2 separate regions of the Homo sapiens genome follow, and region 2 is linked to region 1. A link means that fine-mapping ties the variant in region 1 to the expression of a gene that starts in the linked region. Tissue or cell type: whole blood. Region 1 holds a variant in brackets; the other region holds the start of a gene. All regions are shown on one strand. Distances are from middle to middle.

The links. PIP is the estimated chance that this variant, and not a neighbour inherited with it, causes the effect.
Region 2: TMEM127 starts here. The variant in region 1 is fine-mapped to the expression of TMEM127 in whole blood (TOPMed, PIP above 0.99).

What each region holds. Positions count from the first base shown.
Region 1 is chr2:96,241,274-96,243,953 of GRCh38, forward strand. It overlaps STARD7-AS1 (STARD7 antisense RNA 1), which reads left to right. Exons shown (of 4, transcript NR_046322.1): 4 at 604-1,350. Among named protein-coding and RNA genes, the nearest start is that of TMEM127, 23 kb to the right of the region's middle. RefSeq lists enhancers at 561-820, 841-890. The variant G/C (reference allele first, on the strand shown) is at 1,237.
Region 2 is chr2:96,264,769-96,267,448 of GRCh38, forward strand. It overlaps TMEM127 (transmembrane protein 127), which reads right to left and starts at 1,229. Exons shown (of 4, transcript NM_017849.4): 1 at 1,101-1,229; 2 at 370-744. The coding sequence starts at 613. CIAO1 (cytosolic iron-sulfur assembly component 1) reads left to right here and starts at 1,457. Exons shown (of 7, transcript NM_004804.3): 1 at 1,457-1,721; 2 at 2,553-2,680. The coding sequence starts at 1,583. RefSeq lists silencers at 489-798, 849-1,058, 1,069-1,118 and enhancers at 1,349-1,538, 1,769-2,048, 2,646-2,680.

The DNA.
Region 1 (2,680 bases):
CAGTGGGCCCCTCCATCACCTTGGGGGTGAGCTGCATGCAGGGTATAAAATCCCACTGCTCTCGCTGAGGGGGCTGCACTCCTGCAGGACTAAAGGAGGCTTTCTCTGGTTGAGGGCTACCATGGCTGGGCGGGTGAGCCTGCCTCCTAGTGGGATTTGCATTAGCAGCTCACTTAGTTCACAGGTCTAAAGCTGTGTCCTCCAGCCCAGCCCTCTAGCAGTAATTAAGAGGATATTTTGGTTCCTGTTGCCACTCCTTTGTTTTATTTCTCAGGGCCCTCAAAGACACCCCAGAATAGATTTCCTGTCCCCTTTAATCTTGCCCTTCTTTGAGTCCCCATTGCATTTTATGGTATATTTCTAGCATGACCTTTCATTCTTTCAGTAATTACCTCCTTATTTCCTTCACCCCTGCATTTAAAAAAAAATTTTATAGATGAGGTCTCACTCTGTCACCCAGGCTGGAGTGCAGTGGTGCAATCATAGCTCGCTGCAGCCTTAAACTCCTGGGCTCAAGCAGTCTTCCTGCCTCTGCCTCCCAAGTAGCTGGGACCACAGGTGCACATGACCATGCCCAGCTAACTTTTTTTTTCTTTTTTGTAGAGACGGGAGTCTTACTTTGTTGCCCAGGCTGGTCTCAAACTCCTGGCTTCAAGCAATCCTTCCACTTTGGCCTTCCAAAGTGCTGGGATTACAGGCATGAGCCACCATGCCCAGCCTCCTTCTCTTACTAGCTGAGAACTAAGAGAAGACACTCTGGAGACAGAGGAGGAAACAGTGACGATGCCACATGATGAATACATAATGGAGGGTGAAGACAAGGCTCCGTCAGGGGCACCAAGGAGGGAAACCCAGTTCTGTGGGGAAGGTATGGGGCAGCTTCACAAGCCCAGTGTCTGCTCCCTTTGTGGGAGACGTGTTGTTTCAGCATCCATTCCCCCTTCTTTTAGGAAAAGTGCTTGAATTTCCTTTTCATGGAACCACCCACCTCCCTCTCATCCATGCATTCTATTCCCAGTATCAGGGGTAGACAAGTGACTTCAGGCTTGGCCAATTAGGGTTCTGACTCTTGGTCAAATCAGAGTGAATCCTGAGTCATTTGTAAACTCCAAGGAAAGGGCTTGCTTTGTTTTCTGTTGAATGCAGTGCTCTGAGATAGCCGGAAATGAAACTGCTCTCTTGCCACACTGAAGGCTAGAGAAGGGCCTGGCCAGGAAATGATGCCAGTGATCAGGG[G/C]TGGAGCTGGAAGAGGGGGAGTGAGGAGGCCCAGACATCTTGGGAGCCCCAAATTCACCTCAGGATTTAACTTCTCCGCTGCTCAGCCAATAAATTCCTTTCTTCCATGACTAATTTGAGTTGAGTTTTTAGTTTTTGCAACTAAAACAGCACTGACTAATACACCCTTAGGTAAGATTAGAGCAAGAATTTCCAATATCTGTGTTCTTCATCCTGAAATTTGGTGAGGATATCTAAGGTTCTTTTGTCTTTTAAAAGAATTCTGTTGCAATGGAAAGTATCAATCCATATTTTTCCATTTCTCCAAAATGTTTTAGTGTATATCTATGGGGCACAAACTTAATCTCTGTAGGCCCTCTGCCATAGTTGCTCTGTGCCACTTGATAAGGGGCTGGTATCTAGAATATATAAAAACTCTTAAAACTCAGCCGGGCATGGTGGCTCATGCCTATAATCCCAGCTCTTTGGGAGGCCGAGGCAGGCGGATCACCTGAGGTCAGGAGTTTGAGACCAGCCTGGCCAACACGGTGAAACTCTATCTCTCTAAAAATACAAAAATTAGGCGGGCGTAGTGGCTCACTCAAGACTGAGGCAGAAGAACCACTTGAACCCAGGAGTTGGAGGTTTCAGTGAGCCCAGATGGCTCCACGGCACTCCATCCTGTGCAACAGAGTGGCACAGGATGGCAAAAACAAACAAAAGCTCTTAAAACTCAACAATAAAAGACAACCCACTTTAGAAATGAGAAAAGGGCCAAGTGTGGTGGTAATCCCAGCACTTTGGGAAGTTGAGGTGTGTAGATTGCTTGAGCCCAGGAGTTTGAGAGCAGCCTGGGCAACATGGCAAAACCACATCTCTACAAAATACAGAAAAGAAAAAAAAAAAATCAGTCAGGTGTGGTGTTGCACACCTGTAGTCCCAGCAACCTGGAGGCTGAAGTGTGAGGATTGCTTAAACCTAAGGAGATAGAGGCTGCAATGAGCTGCGATTGTGCCACTGCACTCTACCTTGGGCAACAGATGAAGACGCTGTCTCAAAAAATAAGAATAAAGAAAGAAAGATGGGAAAAGAATTTATTTCTTTCCTTTTTTTTTTTTTTAGACAAGGTCTGGCTGGTCCCCCAGGCTGGAGTGCAGTGGTGCAATCTTGGCTCACTGCAACCTCTGCCTCCCAGGTTCAAGTGATTCTCCTGCCTCAACTTCCCGAGTAGCTGGTACTACAGGAGCAAGCCACCACACCCAGCTAATTTTTGTATTTTTAGTAGAGCCGGAGTTTCACCATGTCGGCTAGGCTGGTCTCGAACTCCTGACCTCAAGTGATCTGCCCACCTCGGCCTCCGAAAGTGCTGGGATTACAGGTGTGAGCCACTGAACCTGGCCTTTTTTTGCTGCTGTTGTTGTTCGTTTTGTTTTGTTTTTGTTTTTGTTTTGAGATGGAGTCTCGC
Region 2 (2,680 bases), 23 kb after region 1:
TTTTTCTCCATTAATCAGTCTGCCCCAAAGAAGCTTTTCCGTATTTCACAGGATCCTTAGAAGAGGCCAGCTAACTGTGATACCTAGCACCCTTATCTTTTCTCGATACACAGCGTCCTTCCTCCAGCAGAATCCTAAAATAGCAGCAGTCCGGATTAACATGGCTGTGAGGAGTAGGTGCTTAGCTGAATAACATCAGAATTAATGAGGGGCCGGACCCCAAACAGAGCCACCTGGTGGGCATGAACACCAGGCAGTTATGGGGCCGTTTCCTTCAACCAAGTGTCTGGTCCCTGGCTATCTCTGCTTCAGCCAGAACACATTCTGTCCCCCACCGAGGCTTTAAGGGCCAGCGCGCAGCACCCTCACCTTTCAGCAGGTCCGGGTGCACATAGCCCAACACGTCGGAGACCCCCAGCTCCTGGCGCGAACAGGTGCCTCCGTGGATGTGCAACCAGGCGGGCTCGGCGAGGGCAGTGCACAGCGCCGTGATAGACAGGGCGCCAGGCAGGGCCGAGGCCAGGCTACGCTCCGGCTGCTTGGGCAGAGCGCTGCCTCCCGGGCTCCTCCGCCGGCGCCCGCCGGGCAGCCCTGCGCCTCCGGGGGCGTACATGCCCGGGGCCGCCCGCCGTCGCTCCGCAGTCGCTGCTGGTCGCCGCCGACCTCCGCGGGGCGCGCAGAGCCTGACAGTCCGGTGGAGGATAGCAACGCTCCGGGTTCGCTGCAGGTGAAGCCGGGACTGGGCTGTCAGGGTTGACACCAGAGGATAGGGGGGTGGGACCCGGGGCTGACGGAGACGGGGAGGGCTGCGGGAATTCGGGGGGCGGAGACAGGAGACTCCGGAATGGGACTGCGGGACGACAACCGAAGAGGGCCAGGGGCCAGATGGGGTCTGGGCAGACTCGAGTGGGGGGCGGAGGGATCGGGGATCGGCTACTGCTAGAGCAAAGACCCGGAGTCAGGGTCTCAGCCAGAGGATGCCGAGGGGCGGAGGACCGGGCTGGGCCGCGGGGATCGGGGACCCGTGATCTGGGACCGGCGGTTTGGGGTGCGACCTGTGCGCAGAAAAGACCCTCCCCACGCCGCCCACTGTTCCTCACCAGTCAGCAGGCCCCAGGGCTGGGATGGTGCTGCTCAGCCCAGTCACGGGCTTCTCGGCTGCCGGGGGCCGAGCGTTCCCAGGCCCCAATCCCGCAACGCCCGGACAGACCCGGGGCCGATGCACTTCCGGCTTCCTCCTCCTCTGCCTCCGCCTCCTCCGGCTCCCCGCCCCGTCCCCCGCGCGCGTCACAGCCTGGGCGCGCCGCCGGCTCTGCGCAGGGCCTCACGGGACTGGTAGTTCGAGGCGGTCCCGCGATGCTTTCCCTGCCGAGGTGAGGGGAGCGACTACAACTCCCAGAGGGTATGGCGGCCGCAGCAGTGGGCAGTTGAGTTTCCGGGGCGACCCAGGTCCTCCGGCGGAAGCGGGAGCCTCTGTCGGCCGCGGAAGCCTGGAGTGGGCGGTACGCAGACGCGCGCGGTGAGACCCGCTGTCTGCTCAGCGGACTCTGCCCGCCCCCACCTCCCCCTGCGTCGGGCCGACATGAAGGACTCGCTGGTGCTGCTGGGCCGTGTCCCGGCGCACCCGGACTCCCGCTGCTGGTTCCTGGCCTGGAACCCCGCGGGGACCCTGCTGGCCTCGTGCGGCGGCGACCGGAGAATCCGCATCTGGGGCACGGAGGGTAAGGCCCAGCCTGGTTGCGCGGCCCTCAGCGCTGAGGGCTCAGCCTGCGCGTAGTGCAGGCGCTCAGCCTGCAGGGGAGGCTGAACCTGTTCCTGGCGGAGGGAGAGTGGGATGTTAGCCACGCCGAGAAGGGCTTTACAGGCAAAGAAGTCTGCGACTGTTGGGAGGAAAAACGTCAGCAGACAAGCTGAAATGTCAAGGGAATTGTGTTAGCTGCAGAGGCAGGAAAATGGGAAAAGAGAGGTGTTAGGAAAGTGGCCTTCAGAGTAACTTGCGACTGGATGGTCACATTTTATCCCGAGGGCATTGGGGAACCAATAGCAATTTTAGATCAGATTTGTTTTAGAAAGATGCCTCCAGAGGTTGGGCGCGGTGGCTCACGCCTGTAATCCTAGCAGTTTGGGAAGCAGAGGCGGGTAGATCACCTGAGGTCAAGAGGTCAAGACCAGCCTGGCCAACATGGTGAAACCCCGTCTCTACTAAAACTACAAAATTAGCTGGGCGTTGTGGCGGGCACCTGTAATCCCAGCTACTCGGGAGGCTGAGGCAGGAGAATCCCTTGAACCCAGGAGGCGAAGATTGCAGTGAGCCGAGATTGTGCCATTGCACCCCAGCCTGGGCATCAGAGCAAAAACTCCGTCTCAAAAAAAAAAAAAAAAAAAAAAAAAAGCTTCCAGACGAAGTAGATTCATTTGCATCTTTGTAAAAGCTGTGAAATACACTCCCTGAGCTTTCCCCCACTAGCTTGATTCCAGTGCTAGCCCCTGATATTGAATGGCTTCATGGTGCTGCACCCAGCTCCAGAGCCTGGCCTGCGCTCCGCCTTTAGGTGACAGCTGGATCTGCAAGTCTGTCCTTTCTGAAGGCCACCAGCGCACCGTGCGGAAGGTAGCCTGGTCCCCCTGCGGTAATTACCTGGCCTCTGCCAGCTTTGATGCTACCACTTGCATTTGGAAG